Linked DNA regions of Homo sapiens. The protein of the gene in region 1 purifies or fractionates together with the protein of each later gene. This does not show direct contact. Each region holds a gene or a part of one and is shown in the gene's direction. Other genes may lie near its edges.

Region 1 (3,500 bases):
CTGAAAGGTCAAGAAATTTATAAGTTCTGAACGTATGCTGTATGAAACATAGTTGGTAGTCCTGAATAACTGCATGCCCATATATGGATCTGATTATCACATAAAACTTGTAGAATCCCTGTGTAAAATTTTCAACACTGAAAGTATAGAAACCACTTGAGCAAGTGATTGGAAAAAAGTTTTCACAAAACACAACCAGTTAATCAGGAAAAGTAGGGAAGGAAGTAGAGGAATGAACTATTAATAGGTTCCTGCTATTGAAGTAGTTTGCTTACATAATCATTATAACAGGGAGAGTTGGAGCATTTAGAAGCATAATTCTAGGTAGTTCTTGTAAAACATTGTGTAATTCAAATTTTTTAGCTTGAGCATGTGGGAGCCTGCCAGTTCAGGTACAGACATTCAACTGTGTCTTGGCATAACCTGTGATATTAAGTGCATTTGATTTTTCTTTCTCAGGTAAGCCAAAGCTTAAATGTCTTTGTTTAAAAAAAATTTGGCTAATAATATAAATCTTAGATGAGTAGATGAGGAAGGGTAACCTGAGAATCTAGTTCATTGTCTAGAGTAAGTCATCTACTTTTTAGCCAATTTTTCATTACCCTATTTTGGAATAATACTTCAAGTTTAATCTGTTGATTATAGGCTGAATTTCTTATATATGTGGATTTGGGTCTGCTAAAATTTTTAACCTTACCTTTGTGAGAAATTTTAAATGTGAAAAGGGTATGTGTGAAAAGACCTCACTTTTGTTTTTATGTATTATTTATTTATTTATTTTTGAGATAGAGTCTCACTCTGTCACCCAGGCTGTAGTGCAGTGGTGCGATCTCGGCTCACTGCAACCTTCACCTCCTGGGTTCACACCATTCTCCTGCCTCAGCCTCCCGAGTAGCTGGGACTACAGGCGCCCGCCACCATACCTGGCTAATTTTTTGTATTTTTGCTAGAGACGGGGTTTTAACTGTGTTAGCCAGGATGGTCTCGATCTCCTGACCTCGTGATCCTCCCACCTTGGCCTCCCAAATTGCTGGGATTACAGGTGTGAGCCACCGCGCCCGGCTATTTATTTTTTTTGAGACGGAGTCTTGCTCTGTTGCCCAGGCTGCAGTGCAGTGGTGCAGTCCGGCTTACTGCAACCTCTGTCTCCTGAGTTCAAGCAATTCTCCCACCTTAGCCTCCTGAGTAGCTGGGATTACAGGCAGGTGCCACCACGCCTGGCTAATTTTTGTATTTTTAGTAGAGACGGGCTTTCACCATGTTGGCCGGGCTGGTCTCCAACTCCTGGCCTCAAGTGATTTGCCCGCCTCAGCCTCCCAAAATGCTGGAATTACAGGCGTGAGCCACTGTGCCCGGCCTGTTTTTATTTTATTTTTTTGAGACAGTCTGGCTCTGTTGCCTGGGCTAGAGTGCAGTGGTGCCATCTGGGCTCACTGCAACCTCGGCCTCTTGGATTCAAGTAATTCTACCGCCTCAGCCTCCTGAGTAGCTGGGCCTACAAGTGTGTGCCACCATGCCTAGCTAATTTTTTGTCTTTTTAGTAGAGACTGGGTTTTATCATGTTGGCCAGGCTGGTCTCGAACTGACCTCAAGTCATCCACCCCTCTGTCTCCCAAAGTTCTGGGATTACAGGCGGGAGCCACTGCGCCTGGCCATATTTCTCATTTTACATCCTCCAGAAACCACTGTGCATTTCCTTTTCAGGTTATAACTGAGTAGTGGGATCTATTGATATTCCCAGATAGTTTGCCAAGAGGCTAGCACTATAAACTGGTAGTGAACCTTGCTTTTTGGTTTATGATTGAGGAACGGCTGTACAGACATTTGGGCTAGAACTTGAAATTTCCATTTCTTTTTGTTATTCTTGTTTTATTATCACCTGGTTTGTATAGGAAGTTGATAAAAGGATTATCTCAACACTCAGGACTTAAACAGTTTGTGAAATGCTAAGTTTTCTCTTTACTTAGTTGTAGTGCTAAAGCTAAGGCCCATATTCACTGTATCAGCTTAACTTTAAATGTTTAAACATTTCAGTTATTACACCAAAATTTCTTATGATATAAAAAATGCCCTTGTGTTTATAGGAAATCATCTGATGTGCTGCACACTTTTTTTTTTTTTCCTGGAGATGGAGTTTCACTCTTGTTGCCCACAGGCTGGAGTGCAGTGGTGCGATCTAAGCTCACTGCAACCTCCGCCTCCTGGGTTCAAGTGATTCTCCTGCCTCAGGCCTCCCAAGTAGACAGGGTTTCATCGTGTTGGCCAGGTTGGTCTCGAGCTCCTGACCTCAGGTGATCCACCCGCCTCCACCTCCCAAAGTGTAGGGATTACAGGTGTGAGCCACCGCGTCCGGCCTGCACACTCCTTTTTATAGTATATTTGAATTGCGTGACTAGGTGGGGGGAGGAAATAGCCTGATGTTAATTTTTTGTGTTTTGATTTGCCTTTTTTTTTCTTCCACAGAATAATGCATATACTGCCATGTCAGATTCCTACTTACCCAGTTACTACAGTCCCTCCATTGGCTTCTCCTATTCTTTGGGTGAAGCTGCTTGGTCTACGGGGGGTGACACAGCCATGCCCTACTTAACTTCTTATGGACAGCTGAGCAACGGAGAGCCCCACTTCCTACCAGATGCAATGTTTGGGCAACCAGGAGCCCTAGGTAGCACTCCATTTCTTGGTCAGCATGGTTTTAATTTCTTTCCCAGTGGGATTGACTTCTCAGCATGGGGAAATAACAGTTCTCAGGGACAGTCTACTCAGAGCTCTGGATATAGTAGCAATTATGCTTATGCACCTAGCTCCTTAGGTGGAGCCATGATTGATGGACAGTCAGCTTTTGCCAATGAGACCCTCAATAAGGCTCCTGGCATGAATACTATAGACCAAGGGATGGCAGCACTGAAGTTGGGTAGCACAGAAGTTGCAAGCAATGTTCCAAAAGTTGTAGGTTCTGCTGTTGGTAGCGGGTCCATTACTAGTAACATCGTGGCTTCCAATAGTTTGCCTCCAGCCACCATTGCTCCTCCAAAACCAGCATCTTGGGCTGATATTGCTAGCAAGCCTGCAAAACAGCAACCTAAACTGAAGACCAAGAATGGCATTGCAGGGTCAAGTCTTCCGCCACCCCCGATAAAGCATAACATGGATATTGGAACTTGGGATAACAAGGGTCCCGTTGCAAAAGCCCCCTCACAGGCTTTGGTTCAGAATATAGGTCAGCCAACCCAGGGGTCTCCTCAGCCTGTAGGTCAGCAGGCTAACAATAGCCCACCAGTGGCTCAGGCATCAGTAGGGCAACAGACACAGCCATTGCCTCCACCTCCACCACAGCCTGCCCAGCTTTCAGTCCAGCAACAGGCAGCTCAGCCAACCCGCTGGGTAGCACCTCGGAACCGTGGCAGTGGGTTCGGTCATAATGGGGTGGATGGTAATGGAGTAGGACAGTCTCAGGCTGGTTCTGGATCTACTCCTTCAGAACCCCACCCAGTGTTGGA
Region 2 (4,128 bases), on another chromosome or scaffold:
TTGCGGTGAGCTGAGATTGCACCATTGCACTCCAGCCTGGGCAACAAGAGTGAAACTCCATCTCAAAAAAAAAAAAAAAAAAAAATGGGCGTCTCACTCTGTCATCCAGGCTAGAGTGCAGTGGCACCACCACAGCTCACAGCTACCTCGACCTCCTGGGCTCAAGCGATCCTCACACCTCAGCCTCCTGAATAGCTGGGACTACAGGTGTGTGCCGCCACACCTGGCTATTTTTGTATTTTTTGTGGAGATGAGGTTTTCACCATGTTGCCCAGGGTGGTCTCAAACTCCTGGGCTCAAGCAATCCTCCTGCCTTGGCTTCCTAAAGTGCTGGGAATATAGGTGTGAGCCACTGCACCTAGCTGGGTGATTATTAATAATCATGATTGTTAATTATGTTCATGATTACAGGCGCGGTGGCTCACGCCTGTACTCCCAGCACTTTGGGAGGCCGAGGTGGGCGAATCACCTGAGGTCAGGAGTTCAAGACCTGCCTGACTAACATGGAGAAACCTCATCTCTACCAAAAATACAAAATTAGCTGGGTGTGGTGGTGCGTGCCTGTAATCCCAGCTACTCGGGGGGCTGAGGCAGGAGAATTGCTTGAACCCGGGAGGCGGAGGTTGCAGTGAGCTGAGATCGTGCCATTGCATTCCAGCCTGGGCAACAAGAGCGAAACTCCGTCTCAAAAAAAAAAAAAAAATTATGTTCATGGGAAAGCACTTTTCCTAACAAGCCCTTTTCTCACTACATGTAGCGTTTGTGCTCCCACTTCAGTTACTTGTCTTTAGGCATGACCTTTAATCTCTCTGAACCAGTTTCCTCATTTTAAGAATTGAAATGCTGGCTGGGCCAGTGGCTCACGCCTGTAATCCCAGCACTTTGGGAGGCCAAGGCGAGATGACTGCTTGAGTCCAGGAGTTCGAGACTAGCCTGGGCAACATAGTGAGGCCACCTCCCCGCTGTCTCTATAAAAAAATCTAGAAATTAGTCCCACGTGGTGATGTGCGCCTGTAGTCCCAGCTGCTTGGGAGGCTGAGGTGGGGGGATCGCTGAAGCCGGGAGGTCAAGGCTGCAGTGACCCGTGGTCATGCCGCTGCACTCTAGTCTGGGGACACAGTGAGACCCCGTATCAAAAAGAAAAATGCTGCCTATTTCAAGGTTGTAGCAAAGCTAAGTTTGAACAGAGCAAAGGAAGCGCCATAGAAGCTGCACTACTTGCTCATGTCACAGCTGGGGAATGGGGTGGTCGAATGGGGAGGTCCACTGTCGCAATGTTCCAATTCCCGCCCAGAGGGAGGGACCTCCCCTTCGAGGGAGGGCGCCGGAAGTGACGCGAGGCTCTGCGGAGACCAGGAGTCAGACTGTAGGACGACCTCGGGTCCCACGTGTCCCCGGTACTCGCCGGCCGGAGCCCCCGGCTTCCCGGGGCCGGGGGACCTTAGCGGCACCCACACACAGCCTACTTTCCAAGCGGAGCCATGTCTGGTAACGGCAATGCGGCTGCAACGGCGGTGAGTGCTGAGCCGGTGACCAGCACACTTTGGGCTTCTGGACGAGCCGTGCAGCGATTGGCCCCAGGTTGCCATCCTCAGTCGTCTATTGGTCAGAACGGCTATCTTTTTTTTTTTTTTTTTTTTTTTTTTTTTGGTCCGAGTAGCTTTTAAAGGGCCAGTAGCTCGGTTGCCCTCCGGAAGGAATGGGGAAATCAGAGAGCGGTGATACTGGGTTAAGAGTGGAAGGATTGTTTGGAACGGAACTCCGGTCCCTGCGGGCATCTGGGTGGGATTCCCATCAGGCCTGGGATGCACGGCTCTAGATTTAGTGACCCAGACCAAGAACGTTCGTCTACACAGACGGGGTCCTTTCATTCGAGGCTGGGCTGAGGCGGATGCAGATACGGCCCCTTTGGGAAGACACGTTCCACTTTTGATTCATAGGAGAGAGTATCAGCCAAGCCTCCGAACTGCACACAAACGTCTTAGAAGTGCGCCTTCTTTTTGTGTTATAGTGGTCTCCCAGCCACAGCCAACGCTCCAAGTCCCCAGCTGTGACACACCTACTGAATTACTACCGTGGGTGGGAGGCCGCCGTGGGCCTTTCCATTACGAGCCTGCTTGCCGAGCCCTGGGCTTGTGCACAGACAAACTGCAGAGCTGGTGGAGGCCACTGCCAGGCCGAGATAAGAAAGAGATGGGGAGCTGCTAATCTCCCCCTGTCCAGCCTGTTGGTGAGGGCTGGGATCTTTGCTCTTGCAGTCATTCCAGAGCCCTGGACTAGGAGTAGGAAGATCTGAATTGTGGCCCCAACTCTCTTTCGGTTATTAGCTCTGTGACCCTAGGCAAGTCACCTCATCCCTTGATGCCACCCGTTGCTTCTGTAACATGGTCCCAAAGGTGCCTGTCTTGTCCACCTGATAGGATTTTTGAGACGACAACAATATGCAAAAGCAATAGCTTCAACATAGAAGTGCTCAGTGTTTTATTTTTTAATGAAACGGTTTGACTTGGATATGCTGTGCACATTCAATGAACTTAAGGAATTGTTTGAACCTAGTAGTTCTGGGACCTTAGAGTCCTTTCTGTGGGCTCCCTGTGGCCCAGAATTTTGGTGGCCACGTTTAATATCAAGCCTAGCCTAATTTGCAAAGGGTCTCCCAGGGTTAATTTATTGGAGTGATCACATGGAGTAGACCAGAGTCTGAGGGCAGAAAGCTGTCACCTGCTTCGGCAATAGAGGCCCCAGATGTCTGGGTGCAAAAGAACTCCATAGCACCCCGACCAACATGGTGAAACCCCGTCTCTACTAAAAATATAAAAATTAGGCCGGGCACAGTGGCTCATGCCTGTAATCCTAGCACTTTGGGAGGCCGAGGCAGGTGGATTGCCTGAGCTCAGGAGTTCGAGACCAGCCTAGGGAACACAGTGAAACCCCGTTTCTACTAAAAATACAAAAAATTAGCCGACGTGGTGGCATGCGCCTGTAGTCCCAGCTACTTGGGAGGCTAAGACAGGAGAATCGCTTGAACCTGGGAGGTGGAGGTTGCACTGAGCCGAGACCGCGCCATTGCACTCCAGCCTGGGTGACAGAGCGCGACTCCCCCTCAAAAAAAGAAAAAAAAAAAAAATATATATATATATATACACACACACACATATTTTAGCTGGGCATGGTGGTGTGCGTCTGTAGTAGTCCCAGCTACTTGGGAGGCTGAGTCAGGAGAATCGCTTGAACCTGGAAGGCAGTGGTTGTAGTTAGCTGAGAACATGCCACTGCACTCCAGCCTGGGCAACAGAGGGAGACTCTGTCTCAAAAAAAAAAAAAAAAGGAACTACATAGGATGAACATCCCAGATCAGGGAATGTTGACTGTCGACAGTATCAGTATCTACAGTGGCTACTGTCTGATGTAGAAAGAAATGGGATCAGGCTAGGCGTGGTGGCTCACGCCTGTAATCCCAGCACTTTGGGAGGCTGGGGCAGGAGGATCACAAGTTCGAGACCAGCCTGGCCAACACAGTGAAACCCCGTCTCTACTAAAAATGTGAAAATTAGCTGGGCATGGTGGAACATGCCTGTAGTTCCAGCTTGAACCCAGGGGTGGAGGTTGTAGTGAGCCTAGATCACGCCACTGCACTCCAGCCTGAGCAAAACAGTGAGACTCTGTCTAAAAAAAAAAAAAAAAAAAGAGAGAAATGGGACCTCCGTCTTAGACTGAAGAATTCAGTTCTACGTGCTTAGCAGTGAATACTTTTGTCCAAGGTACTCTGGCAGGAGGAAGAGGCGTGTCCTCTTGAGTTCTTGACTTGGGCTCTGGCCTGTTAATATTTCCATGTTGGTGAAACCAGAGGCAGCACTCTAGGTGCACGAACTTTAGGCAGCGCAGCCTCCTAGTCTTATGGAACATCTGAGGCAGAAGAAACCTGAGTCCAACCTTTTCATTTTATAGATGAACAAACAGATCCTGGTGGGACAGTGTACCCAAGGTCACCCAGCCAAGAGGCTGAGCAGGACTGTACGTCAGATCCGTTTACCTCAGTCCTTAATGCATGCAGTCCAGCCAGATTAAGGGACCCTTAATACTGTCAGCTTTCCCCACTGTGGGATCTTCATCCTCTTGACTTCTTTT
Region 3 (3,500 bases), about 71 Mb from region 1:
AGAAATTCAGTGTTCCTTCCTAGCTTTCCTTAAGTAAACTATGCAGGTAAATGTTTCCTTTTGCTAGTTGGACACAAGCATTGATTTGGTGGTAGTATTTATCACTATTGCATAATTAGCATAATTCTAACAATCTTTTGCAGTTGTTATGGAATACTGGGCTATAAAATATTTAACTAGCTAATTTTAAAATTTTAATTTAGGGAAGTTGATCACGTTTCTGATAATATGGAGTGCAATCATATTGGCTACTGTGAATACATAAAATGTTAATTTTTGTTATTTTTAGGTTGCTTTCAATATATTTTAGAAGTGACTGTGAAGGTGAATAGCTTATTACACATTATAGTGGTGTGTGCCTATAGTCCCAGCTACTCGGGCGGCTGAGGCAGGAGAATCACTTGAACCCAGGAGGTGGAGGTTGCAGTGAGCCGAGATCACACCACTGCACTCCAGCCTGGCGACAGAGTGAGACTCTGTCTAAAAAATAAATTAATTAATTAAATTAAATAAAAAATAAACATTAACATTATAGCATATTGAAGCCAGTCTAGCCTCATCGATTTAATTTTTATTATTTATAAAAATTATAAGTGTAAACATAAACATTGTCTATTTCTCTTTGAGCTCTTTACAATAACTTCTGAACAATGCCAATACTTATAGTATTAACTTCTATCTAATACAATCTTTGTAATTAAACTCATAATTTTCATCCTGCTTATAAGTTTTTTTTGTTATTTTTAGAAACCCTACAGTGGCACTGCTTATAAGATTTTTGATACCTTACTAGTGACCAGTGTCACTTAGGTGTTCTTTGGAAATGTGTGCTTACCTAAAAAATGTCTATTTCTATAATATTAAAGCAGTATTATAATATATATTTCAAGTCCTATGATGAAAAATTGATTTGATTTGGAGGGATTTAGTGAATATTAGTTAAGCTGGTAGAACATTGTTTAGTTCCAAAAAATGACGGCTTTATTTTATTGTGCTTTTAGCAATAGCAAAAAGAAATATGCTTCTAAGATTGTTACATGGCAGAAAAGAATGTTCAAACTTAATTTACTTAATTTTAAATTACAAAATCTAGGATTCTACTTGTTAGCTAATAGAGTTTCAAGTATTTTATTAATCTTTGTGCAAATGTTGTGTTTAACAGTTTGGAACCAATCTGATTTTTTATTATAAACCAGTGTTTATAATAAACAGCTAGATAGATAGCACCAGTGTTAAACGTAAATCACACAAGTGGAAATTGTAAGGTGTAAGAGTTTTTAAGAGTTATTTATCATCATCTGTAGGAGAAACTGGCTTCAGTCTGGTCAGACAAATCTAATCTTTCCAACAGCTAAGTAATTCACCAGCAGGGAATTTATGAATAATTATTTAGTCAACCACCTGGAAATTAAGTCTGATTAAAGTTTTAAAAATAAGCAAGCAGGCCCAGGCACGGTGGCTCACGCCTGTAATCCCAACACTTTTAGGCTCAGGCAGGCAGATCAGCTGAGGTTGGGAGTTTGCAACCAGCCTGACCAACATGGAGAAACCCCATCTCTACTAAAAATACAAAATTAGCTGGGTGTGGTGGTGCGTGCCTGTAATCCCAGCTACTCGGGAGGCTGAGGCTGGAGAATTTCTTGAACCTGGGAGGCGGAGGTTGTGGTGAGCTCACATCATGTCATTGCACTCCAGCCTGGGCAACAAGAGCGAAACTTGGTCTCAATAAATAAATAAATAAATAAATAAGCAAACAAAAAACAGGGAGAAAACCTAACAGAATTGTAGTGTTATGATTTACATTTAGTAATATGAAACTAACATTTTTCTTCTTCTTTTCCTCTCTCATGTCTCAATATCTTTGCAAAATCTAATCTTCCTTTTTAACCGTTTTCTTCTCTTGATAAATTCTCTTGTTTCTATGTGTTTTGGTATGTTTGATATCTTGCTGCATATTTTTCTATGTCAAATCATGCCTCCTTTTGTCTCTTTCCTTCCTCCTATCTTGCTTTTCTCTTTCTGTTACATTTATTTGTTACATTTGTCACTGTGCTTTTTACAGTACATGTTGGATGCTGCTAGGAATTTGCAACCCAATTTATATGTAGTAGCTGAACTGTTCACAGGAAGTGAAGATCTGGACAATGTCTTTGTTACTAGACTGGGCATTAGTTCCTTAATAAGAGGTAGGCTTGTTGGAGTGTATTTCCCTCTAAAACTTTAGCTTTTGTTTAAGTAGATTAAAGGATTTAATAGCTTCATATGCAATGCTTAATAATTTTTTAACACAGTTAATGTTCTTCTAAATACTTTGTATGACATATTCTAATATAACTCAGTCTATTTTTATCAGTATAAATTTCTACTTTGGGGTAAGATACCTCATTTCAAATTGAAAGACCAGTAGGATGAACTGAAGACTCACTAACAAAACCATTTTTTGTTGTTGAAAATATGCAAACCTGTTTTTCATCTTCTACTGGGAGATATGATGTAATGTTTAGATGTTTTATAATCAATTTTGTATAGCTTACATCCCAGTAAACAACATATGTTCCCTTTTCCTTACATGAGCCATTTCTCCAGTTAAGTTATGGGGAAAACTTTTTTGTCACTTAAACTAGTAGACATTTGTTTAAATCCTTAAAGCAGTTTTATTTTTTATAATATTGATGTGGTCTTTATTTTGAAAATCATTTATGAGAAGAAATCTAACCTCTTCCTGGACATAAATAATGAAGATTGTTAAAATATTCTGTAATGCTCTGCAGAGGCAATGAGTGCATATAATAGTCATGAAGAGGGCAGATTAGTTTACCGATATGGAGGAGAACCTGTTGGATCCTTTGTTCAGCCCTGTTTGAGGCCTTTAATGCCAGCTATTGCACATGCCCTGTTTATGGATATTACGCATGATAATGAGTGTCCTATTGTGGTAAGCACCTAATCTTTTTCATGTACTTATTTTGCTAAATGCTTTGATATTTAACTCTCTGACACTTGGTCACAATCATACCCATATACTTCAAAATAGTGTCTTAGATTTATAACTGATTTATAATACATAGTTTTCAGAATGTTTTACTTGTTTAAAAGCAAATTAATTTACCTTATGAATTTATTTATGTAATTATCCTTTTACTTCATTATGCTATAGAATAGCACTTTGCATTTGAAAGAAAGCAAACTTTTGCTTTGTTGTTGTTGTCTTCTAGCATAGATCAGCGTATGATGCTCTTCCAAGTACTACAATTGTTTCTATGGCATGTTGTGCTAGTGGAAGTACAAGAGGCTATGATGAATTAGTGCCTCATCAGGTTTGTTTATATGTTGTTTCTTAAAACCTACATGGCCAACAACTTTGGGCATTTTTATTAAAAAAAATTCATTGTAATTAAGATGTATCCATGCTAAATTTTACCTTTGTCCAGATTTCAGTGGTTTCTGAAGAACGGTTTTACACTAAGTGGAATCCTGAAGCATTGCCTTCAAACACAGGT
Region 4 (3,500 bases), on another chromosome or scaffold:
TCTAGTGGGGGTGGAGGCTGCAGGGGTGGGGCGGGATCTTCATGTTCTGATGTCTTTCTCTACAGACAGCCTGTTCAAGTCCAGGATCAATCGAAAGATTCTTCCAGGCAGAGTTGCAGATTTGTCTTAGGTAAGCCTCCCCTTTGTTTAGTAATAATGATAGCTAACCTTTATATAGTGCTTCCTGTGTGCCCAGTCATGTTTTAAGCACTCTATTATATATAAACTCATTTAGTCCTTACAAGAACCCTATAAATGTAGCTACTATTATCACATTATTTTACAGATGGGTAAATTGAGGCACAGAGGGGTTAAATGTCTCATCCAAGGTCACACAGCTAATGAGTGGCAGAGCCAGGATTTGGATCTACCTGGTTTGGCTCCAGAGTCCATTCTTCTCCTGTGTAGCAATTCTATGTGTAGATTAGAATTATAAAGGAAACTTGGCTTACTCCAACTCCTTCCTTCCACATGGGAATAAATCTTCTCTCCTTTTTTTTTTTCTTTTCTTTTCTTTTTTTGTTTTTTGAGACAGAGTCTTGCTCTGTCTCCCAGGCTGGAGTGCAGTGGCGTGATCTCGGCTCACTGCAATCTCTGCCTACCAGGTTCAGGTGATTCTCGTGCCTTAGCCTCCCGAGTAGCTGGGATTACAGGCGTGCGCCACCAGGCCCGGCTAATTTTCATATTTTTAGTAGAGACGGGGTTTTGACATGTTGGCCAGGATGGTCTCAAATTCCTGACCTCAAGTGATCTTTCTGCTTTGGCTTCCTAAAGTGCTGGGATTACAGGCGTGAGCCACCGTGCCTGACTTTTTTTTCTTTTTTAAGAGCTAGGGTCTTGCTCTATTGCCCAGGCTGGAATGGCCTTGGAATGATTGTAGATCACTGCAGCTTTGAACTCATGGGCTGGTGATCCTCCCACCTCAGCCTCTGAGAAGCTGGGACTACAGGTGTGCGCCCAGCTCATTTTTTGCTTTTTTTTTTTTTTTTTTTTGTAGAGATAGGGTCTTGCTATGTTGACCAGGCTGGTGTTGAGCTCCCGGGCTCAAGTGATCCTCCTGCCTTGACCTCCCAAGATGTTGGGATTATAGGTGTGAGCCACTGTGCCCTGCCATGTGTGTGCTTTTTTTTTTTTTAATTATTTTTCATCTGAAACACTTGTGCCTTATATTGTAGGGTATTTTAAGAAATAAAGAAAATTGAGTATCTGTTCATTCTGTAACCAGTGTTAAAAAATAAAGAAAATTGACCAGGTATGGTGGTTTATGCCTGTAATCCTAGAACTTTGATGCTGAGGCAAGAGGATTCCTTGAGCCAAGGAGTTTGAGACCAGCTTGGGCAACATAGCGAGACCCTGTCTCAACTGAAAAAAATATATATACAAAAACTTTTTTTGGCTGGGCATGGTGGCTCGCACCTATAATCCCAGCACTTTGGGAGGCTGAGGCGAGTGGATCACTTAAGTCCAGGAGTTCAAGATCAGCTGGGCAACATGGCAAAACCCCGTCTCTACAAAAAATACAAAAATTAGCTGGGTGTGGTGGTGTATGCCTGCAGTCCCAGCTACTCAGGAGGCTGATGGGAGGATCACTTGAGCCCAGGAGGCAGAAGTTGCAGTGAGCCGAGATCATGACACTACACTCCAGCCGGGGCAACAAAGTGAGTCTCTGTCTCAAAAATAAATAAAGGCCAGGCATGGTGGCTCACACCTGTAATGCCAGCACTTTGGGAGGCCGAGGTGGGCAGATCAGTTGAGGTCAGGAGTTTGAGACCAGCCTGGCCAACATGGCGAAACCTCATCTCTACTAAAAAAAATTCATACAAAAATCAGCCTGGTGTGTTGGCATGCACCTGTAGTCCCAGCTACTCAGGAGGCTGAGGCATGAGAATCACTTGAGCCCAGAAAGTGGAGGTTGCAGTGAGCCCAGATCGCACCACTGCACTCCAGCCTGGGCAATAGAGTGAGACTCTGTCTCAAAAAAAAAAAAAAAAAAAAATTAATTAATTAATTAAAAAGTAAAACAAATTTAAAAAGGAATAAAGAAAATTATAAATAAGAAAATAGAAACTTTTTCACAGCACCTATAAATAAGCACTACTGTTTTAATATTTTGATATATTTTCATTTTTAATTGTTAAAACTTTTTTTGTAGAGACACGATCTCACTATGTTGCCCAGGTTGGTTTTGAACTCCCTGGCTCAAGTGATCCTCCTGCTTTGGCCTCCAAAAGTGTTGGGATTTTAGATGTGAGCCACTGTGCTGGGCCCATATTTTGATATGTTTTCTTTAATGCTTTCTCTATTCATACATGTATATGAATACTCACATGTGTACACACACACACACACACACACAGATACACACACACACATACATCTAATAAAAACTGGAAGTATGATTCCCTTTCCACTTTGGCTTAGTGCTTTCATGGAGTCGGCAGTCACTCCTTCATTCATTGATTCAGAAAATGTGGGTAGTTAAGCCCTTTTCTAGGCTCTAGGGAGTGTACGCCAGAAGCATACAGAGCCCCTGCCTTGGGGAGGTTTATGGTCCAGTGGGGAGACTGACATGTAAATAACTCTAATAAGTATGCAAAAGCGAGTAATAGGATGGCTTGCGGGAAGCAGAGGAGGGCGGAGAGATAAGGCAGGAGGCCATTTACAGCAGTCTTGGGGAGGCTGAATCAGAGCCTGACCCAATCCAAGTGACCCAAGGCAGAGGAGAGGGGAATGAAGGGACATTTTAAAAGTTATTTGTGGCAGTGAATGGTGACTGATTTGATACGGGAGATAAGAAGGTTTCTAGGAAACTGGGTGGGTGGTGATGTGCCTTTCTGGGATAATAAATATGGGTGAAGAAGCAGGTTTGGGACTTGTTGAGGCTAGGATGATGTTGACCTGAGCATCAGGATGCAAATTGACATTCAGGTCTGGAGCTTAGGATGGGGCTGGAGATAAGAGATTTGGGAATATTCCTTATAGCAATGGGAGGTTCCTGGAGGAGCAACATACAAAACAAGATGAGGAGTCCAGCTGGCAGAAAGAGGAAGGCAAAGGAGGAGGGTCTTAGTGAAAAGGGCCAGGAAAGAGTGGTCAGAGAGGTAGGAGGAAAGTCAGGAGGGAATGGTGACTGAGAACCAGCAGAAGAGGATTTCAGGAAAGAACCCCAGTCCTAGAGTCAGGCAGGTGTGGGATCTGGTCCTGGCTTTACTGCTTTCTAGTTTGTGACCTTGGGCAAGTCCCTTAACCTCTCAGTCTCCGTTTCTGGAGATGGGGCAGTTGAGATGTCATGTGTTGCAGAGCAGTAAAGCAGGATGAGGACCACCATACTCGTTGAAGGCAGACAGTTTTCATCTTTCCACCCTGGGGCCAGGCCCTTAGGGGTCAGAGTATGTGGTACCTGGGAGGTTATTGGTGGCGTTGGAGGAGGAGAGGGCAGAAGAGGGGTGGGACATGAGGAAGTAGATCATTCTTTCCGTCTGACTCCTCACACCTGCACT
Region 5 (3,500 bases), on another chromosome or scaffold:
GGAGGATCACCTGAGCCTGAGAGTTTGAGGTTGCCATGAGCTATGATCATGTCACTTCACTCCAGCCTGGGCAAAGCAGCAGCTTTAGGCCTCACTTCAGGCATCACTTCCACTGGGAAATCTTCCTTAACCTCTCAAGGTACCTTCTGTATTCTACTGTTCCTGTCCCCATGGGAGCCTTAAAATACAGTCTTCCCAAAGACTAGACACTGTAACATCTTGTTGAGCATTACATCTCCACAGCTGTCTGGCAGAGAGCTAGAATAAATATTTGGTGAATAAACAAATAATGGCTTTTGCCCTCAAGGAGTTTTAGATTAGGAGAGGGAGAGTGAGTGAGTGTGTGTGTGTAAAAATATGTACGCATGATAGAATGTGGTGAACGTTGAAAATATAGAGAAGATTTTTCCTCTAATTCAGAGGATCAGAAAATGTTTCATAGAAGAAGTAATAATTGATTTGAATTGTAAAGAATGGGTAGAATTTACATTAGAGGTAAGGGATGTATACAAAATAATGAATACATGTACAGAATAATGAGTTTACATTTGAGCTATAAAGGGTGCAATAAAAGGAAATAGTGAGGTAAGTTGATAGCACACCATGGAAAGCTAGGTTTAGAATAGTTTACTAAAAAAGGTATACTTTAGTACTAGGCAATAGGGAGTCACAACCCAGATTAATTAGTTTAACATGCTGAGTGCAGTGGCACACACCTGTAATCCCAGCACTTTGGGAGGCCAAGATGGGAGGATCACTTGAGCCCAGGAGTTCAAGATCAGCCTGGGAAATATAGTAAGACCTGGTCTCTACAAAAAATTTTAAAAATTAAGCATGGTGTCCTGTGTGTGTAGTCCCAGCTACTCAGGAGGCTCAGGTGGGAGGATCACTTGAGCTCAGAAGGCAGAGGCTGCAGTGAGCTGAGATCATGCCATTGCACTCCAGCCTGGGTGACAGGGTGAGAGTCTGTCTCAAAAAAAAAAAAAAAAAAAAAAGAGTTTCTATATTTAAAGAGTAGACCATCATCAAATGATTAATTGAAATCAAATCAGTATCTAATCTTCCCTGTACCTTTCCTAGGACTGTAGCTGTTCCTTATAGTTGCAATGTTTAAATCAAATACAATATTTTATGACTTATACTAAAGGTGGTAACTTTGTTAATCAGTTGACTCAATCTAGAAAACTCAGATGTTTTTACATTTAAAATTATCTATCATTATTTACATGTCATTAATATTTTAAAAGCTCATTTATGTCCTTTAAATTTTAGTGAGAAAGGTAGTGATTTAAATCTGTATTCCAATCTATAGAGAAAAAATAAGACTGAGCATATCTTTCCTCATTTTAAAGTTAGAATTATAAATTTCTTATAATTAATAACCATATAATTGCATTTATATATTATACATCATTATATTGATATAGAAATCTTAAACATAAGATCTTAATTTGAAGTGTAGGGGAAGAGACTGCAAAAACAGATGCCCAAACACTAAGCAGGCAACGGAAGTGAGATAAGCTGGCCAGGTTGGTTTCATAGTGGCATCTAGGGTTATATTCTTTTGATCCAGATATACTTTGTTTACATATTCAACTTATATGATTTTTTTTTTGCTTCCACAAAGAAATAGATTAATATTTTTCCTTTTTAAAAAATATTATTTTCTTAAATATTGATCCTTACAGTTTATCTGTTGGCAAAGACATGCCACTTTTCACATTGCTGTAATAAGAGTCCCAGCCCATGTGGACATGCCTCCTAGGGACTCGCATCAGTGGTGGGGACTGACAAATTAGGGAACCAAGGCTCATCTAAAGAGGATTGCTACCATTGGCCCCTGTGGCCAAGGCCCTGTTTTTCCAGAGAAGCTAGTAATCTGGACTTTTTTTGCAGAATAACCAATCACCTGCTTTTGAAAAACAACTTGCAGTCCAAATCAAATATATCTGTAGGTTGAATATAGTTTGTAGCTTCCTGTTTGCAACTTCTGGTCTGCATCAGCAAGTACTGACTACATTTACAGCTATTTTCTCTAATTTTTCTGAATAACTTGTAGAAAATAGGAGATGATTTTTCCATAAAAAATAGTCAGTGGCCCATAATACCAGTTTATAAAACTTCTAATGTTTTTCTCTAAAAAATGTTTTTAATTCCACAGGTGCTTATTATTAGGCTCCATGCTAGAGCCTGGATTATATCAAATTCTGTAAAATAGACAAGCTCTCTCAACCTTAATATAAAGTATGTTACAGCATCTTTATATGGGGTGGGTTTGATAAAAAATAAAATTGTCTCATAAAAATAAAATAGATAAAGTTGCTAGCTGAACCCTTTTCATCTGAAAAATTTTGTATGCACTGTCTGTCTTATACAAATACTGGCCACCCTACAGATGGAGAGTTTGAGGAACACCTATATAAAAAGGAATGGAGAAAGGAAGAAAAGCACTTTCTAGTTTCATCTCACTTAAGAAAATCCCATCCAACATGGAATGTTATTTACTCTAATGAAAAACTAAATAGGCAAGTTCAAGCTATAAAAGAGAGTCGTGAAATGTTAAGCTGTCCACAGATTTTTATTGTCTTCTTTGAAGAGGAAAGGATGCAATTACCACAAGGATACTGTTTGTCTTTCAAGGCTACTTAATCTATACAGGTTGTGAGTAGATATATCAACAGGCTTTTTCACCAATTTTTTTTTTAACATGAATTTGATTCAGCTACCTCTGGACTGCAACACTGATTCTAAGACTAAAATCATGGAATCAATTTTTTTTAACTAATGTAACAATGTTATAGGTGATGCTCATTTTTATAGAATTATGTGTTCCATACACTTGTGACTCTCTCTTTTTGCTATTAAATGGCTGGGCCCAAAACCACATAAATTGTGTGAGTGCTGCATTATACAAACTACTAGACAATTTATGAAACTGTGTATAGTGATGTCATCTTTTCCATTCAGATTAAGCAGGATTTCTGCAACTATATCCAACTGTACTGTTTTATAATCTATAAAGGGAGAGATTCAAAATACTTTCAAAATTCTTATTCTTTTATGTAATTAAAAAAAAACCCTCCTCACTACTTCCTTAAAGGACATGATACTATAGTGCCACCAAGTGGCCTTTTAAAAATTAGTCTTAAAATTTAAAATCAGATACTTTTTAGAGCTCTCTTTTGTTTTACTAGTAATTTATTTTTTTATTATTCAAAAGGTATTTTTGAACACCTATGTGCAAAAAAGGGTATTTGTCATTGCATTTAGGTAAAAAGCAGCAAAAAATAGTCTTCACTATTGTTTCAGGCCACATTTGTTTTCTTAATTATATCAATGTAATTTTAGCTCCGTTAAAACTGATATTTAAGTAGCTTCCCTTAAAGAAAGCAGGAATTTGCCAGTGTTGGTATTTCAGGAATTTTATAAACACACACACACACACACACACACACACACACACACACATATATTTGAGATGGAGTTTCGGTCTTGTCACC
Region 6 (3,500 bases), on another chromosome or scaffold:
GTTCATTCATTGAAGGACGATCCTATAATAGCAGAGCTGTACTCAGAAGATTTTACTCTCACTCTATACACAGTGCTAACAGATGGTCATTGGCTCTCTAGCCCACAGTATATAATGCCCAAAACCAGAAAAGGGATTTCTAGAGGGAGGCATCAGGAAGCAGGAAGAATTCATAGGAAAGGAGCAGACAAGTAAACCGCAGAAAGCAGATGAGCAGTCGAGAATGCACAATCTGGCTCCAGTTCGTGTTGGGGCAGATAGCGCTGACCACTCCAAGGTCCCTGAAAGCTTGGCAGGAAGTCAGGAGAAATTCTTGCTCTCCTTAACAAAGACAGCAAGGCATCAAGGAAAAGTTCATTTCAGTTCACTTGGCTTTCAGAGGGCAGGGAATTATGCAACCCATTTTAGAAAAAGTCTCATCAAAACAGAGTAAGAAATAGTCACAAAGCTTTGGTAATGTTAAAAAGGGTAAATTACTTATCTGGAAAATGCATTTGGCTGGAACACTTTATCTAAGTCCCTGGATAAATGTGATGTGACTGCTACAGCTTTTGTGCACTGACTTGCTTTCCTCCAGTGATTCCCCATAGAAACAATTATTTCTTACAAGTTATCTTGTGCCACCTTCTTTTTTCCATCTTATCCTTAATTTTCAGATAAAAAGACTAAGTTCTTAGAAACAGTCAGACTGACTTGGAAGTATCACTCATTTTTTTTTTTTCCTGTCTTCCCCTCAGATGATGAAGTAATAGGAGTTAGTGTCAGTGTTCGGGACCGAGAAGACGTCGTCCAAGTCTGGAATGTAAATGCCTCTTTAGTGGGTGAAGCGACTGTTTTAGAAAAGATCTATGAACTTCTGCCCCACATAACTTTTAAAGCAGTATTTTATAAACGTAAGTGCTTCATTTCCAGTTATTACTTTCTAGCTTACTCTATCATACTTTTAAAGATAGAAACTGTTTTGCAAATGTGGTGAAGGCAGATTTACTTGAAATTTGATAATTCAGAAAATAATTCAACAAAATACATTTAAGTTTTTTTTTTTTTTAAAAAAAACAAGCTTAGTCTCAGAAATTAAAGTAAGATTTTATTCTTGCCTAACTGCGTGGATCAGAAAACGAAATAACAAATATTGTATTTGTTATTTCAAAAATTTGTACCTGAACTCAAATTTGTAATTCTCAGAAAAAAAATTACATTCTATTGGAAACAACAATAACAAAAATGTCATTATATGAACTGGCAGGTAGATATTCAATCATCCCTTCATAAACAGGAATTTATAATGTATAACATCTGTATTTGCAGAAGAAATGCATTCTGAGCACAGGCGTGATTGAATGTTCTACTGAAATGCTAATACTTCCTCATTATGAATGACTATGACACAGAACTGAGGGAGAATTCACGCCTAGTGGTGAAATGTTAACAGTATGAATAGGTGTGTGGACCCATTGTTTTCCATCATGATTCATTTTCATTGCTTTTGTGTGCTCTTTTGAAAAAGTCTTCTTTTTCATAATGAAAACATCTTAGTGCTATTAAACCAATGTTTGGTAGATCAGACTGCAGGTCACACATTTAACAGAGTTAGAGAAAAGGACGACAGCCCTACACATGTATGATAAATTTCCTATATCCAAAACTGTTCCTGGAGTCAGTAACCCATTTTTTAACTACCGTATTTCATTGAATCTAAGATGCTCTTGAAGATAAAATGCTCCATTATTTTAGTATTACTGAAAAAGAAAAATAAAAGGCTCCCAATTAAACTGTAACACATTATTGGTACCAGAGGTCTTCAAATATATGTGTGGTAGTTGTGAGGAGTGCGTCTTAGAATTGCTGAAATACATTTCATTATTGCTTCACTTTTTCCAACTCTTTGCCAAAAAAGGATAAAAAAATCAAATTTTGTTTTGTGAGTATCCTAGTATGACAGGGGATATTAACACTAAGGCCTCCCTGTAAGGAATCATATAATTACAGGCCAAATGACCTAGATGTTAAGCAGTGGGACTGATCTGGCACTACAGATATTCTGAATTTTAAATGGAAGTTTAAAAGAGACAGAAAAATGGCACTGCAGAAGTTGCTTATTGGCTGCGTGGTGTAGAAGTTGCCAATTTGCCGATGCCATTTTTATTCTTTAGGGATACTTTAATTGTATTTTCACCCCAGATATTAATTGAAAGGTCATCAAGGGTTTTTTCTTTTTTTTTATTTCACAAGACTAGCAGAAACTCTATAGACGGAAGTGTATTTCATTGGCATTTATGTATGGGGCTAAAACATTTTTTCCCACCTTTGAACCAGCTCCACACTTGACTCTAAAGAGGAGAACACCAATTTGGGGTCGTTAAGTCAGGCACTTTAGGTTTTTGTCCCACTTCACCAGTGTGACCTTGAGCAAGTCACAACTTCTCATCCTTTACCTTTCTCATCTGAGTATCGAGGAGGTTGGTCTTAGATGATCTCCAAGGTTCCTTCTACTGCAAAATTCTATGATTAAGTTTCCAGGTAGCACATTGGTTAGCAGCAGGCTCAACACAGATAATAAGATATCTGTTTTATCAGATAATAAGGCCACAAAGTGGTTAGGCTAGTTTTTAGGGCCATGGCAATAATCAGATAAGATTGTCAAAGGGCAGGATGATTCACTGCTTAGCTGTTGTGATGGCTCTGGGAAAGAAAAAAGCCAAACAAGGGGAAAGAAAACTGCAACTTGGCCAGTTAAATCAAATAGATACCTAAAGGTAGGGGCCATTGCAAAGTATGTAATACAGAACTGAGGAAGGGTCTCAGCAGAAATTCATACTTTAAGGGCATAAATTGGCATTTAAAAACTCAAAGATTGTTCAAATAAAAATCTGAATTTGAAAAAAAACAAGCAGTTTTCTTTATTGTAAACAAAGCAGGCAGTCCTTTACTCAGCAGGGTATACACTACTTGCTGCAGAAGTAATTTGGAAAAATAAGATTTGGGCTGAAATCTTTTTCACAGCAGGGTAAGCTAAGTTAGAAATGGCCAATGTATGCTTTTACTCTGGTTTGGTTAATAGGATCCTAGTGTAAGTATTCCCAAGTTTACATAAGCCAGGTGACTGTAGATTTTCCATGTAGAAAGAACCCAAGCATATTCAGTCATGGCCTCTAGCGGGTAGATGGGCATTGGGCCATTGATAACTTACATTTGATATGGATACACATTATTTGACTGAGAAACTCACAATGCACAGACTCCACTCACTGACCAGCCCCACCCTGGCCAATTCTGCTAAGTTCTTCAGAACAGCTGAGTGACAAAGGTCTTTTCTGGTGTGAGAATTGTTTACAGCAGGAAGCTGGAGCCCAAATCTGCCCTCTGTGTTACCCTCTCCGCTCTCCTGTTTCTGTATAGGTATAGCTGAGAATGCTTTTTACATTTTTCAGTGGTTGGAAAAAAAAGAAAAAGTATATTTTGTAACACATGAAAATTATATGAATATCAAATTTTAGTGT

The links.
Region 2: the proteins of YTHDF2 (region 1) and HMBS fractionate together in Homo sapiens (co-fractionation; one large-scale study listed by BioGRID). This does not show direct contact.
Region 3: the proteins of YTHDF2 (region 1) and AGL fractionate together in Homo sapiens (co-fractionation; one large-scale study listed by BioGRID). This does not show direct contact.
Region 4: the proteins of YTHDF2 (region 1) and IRAK2 purify together in Homo sapiens (co-immunoprecipitation; one large-scale study listed by IntAct). This does not show direct contact.
Region 5: the proteins of YTHDF2 (region 1) and STK38L purify together in Homo sapiens (pull-down; one large-scale study listed by IntAct). This does not show direct contact.
Region 6: the proteins of YTHDF2 (region 1) and EIF4E3 purify together in Homo sapiens (affinity purification with western blotting, with the first as the bait; one study listed by BioGRID). This does not show direct contact.

Annotation. Positions count from the first base shown.
Region 1 is NC_000001.11:28,739,940-28,743,439, forward strand, and holds part of YTHDF2 (YTH domain-containing family protein 2), read left to right. Parts: intron 1-2,463; coding exon 2,464-3,500. UniProt on the Homo sapiens protein: Specifically recognizes and binds N6-methyladenosine (m6A)-containing RNAs, and regulates their stability. M6A is a modification present at internal sites of mRNAs and some non-coding RNAs and plays a role in mRNA stability and processing.
Region 2 is NC_000011.10:119,083,553-119,087,680, forward strand, and holds the start of HMBS (porphobilinogen deaminase), read left to right. Parts: upstream 1-1,328; 5' UTR 1,329-1,481; coding exon 1,482-1,514; exon of another isoform or gene 1,515-1,605; intron 1,606-2,258; exon of another isoform or gene 2,259-2,341; intron 2,342-4,128.
Region 3 is NC_000001.11:99,877,861-99,881,360, forward strand, and holds part of AGL (glycogen debranching enzyme), read left to right. Parts: intron 1-2,062; coding exon 2,063-2,186; intron 2,187-2,771; coding exon 2,772-2,935; intron 2,936-3,215; coding exon 3,216-3,317; intron 3,318-3,431; coding exon 3,432-3,500. UniProt on the Homo sapiens protein: Multifunctional enzyme acting as 1,4-alpha-D-glucan:1,4-alpha-D-glucan 4-alpha-D-glycosyltransferase and amylo-1,6-glucosidase in glycogen degradation.
Region 4 is NC_000003.12:10,213,419-10,216,918, forward strand, and holds part of IRAK2 (interleukin-1 receptor-associated kinase-like 2), read left to right. Parts: intron 1-65; coding exon 66-130; intron 131-3,500. UniProt on the Homo sapiens protein: Binds to the IL-1 type I receptor following IL-1 engagement, triggering intracellular signaling cascades leading to transcriptional up-regulation and mRNA stabilization.
Region 5 is NC_000012.12:27,303,286-27,306,785, forward strand, and holds part of STK38L (serine/threonine-protein kinase 38-like), read left to right. Parts: intron 1-3,500. UniProt on the Homo sapiens protein: Involved in the regulation of structural processes in differentiating and mature neuronal cells.
Region 6 is NC_000003.12:71,687,403-71,690,902, reverse strand, and holds part of EIF4E3 (eukaryotic translation initiation factor 4E type 3), read left to right. Parts: intron 1-737; coding exon 738-893; intron 894-3,500. UniProt on the Homo sapiens protein: Recognizes and binds the 7-methylguanosine-containing mRNA cap during an early step in the initiation of protein synthesis. May act as an inhibitor of EIF4E1 activity.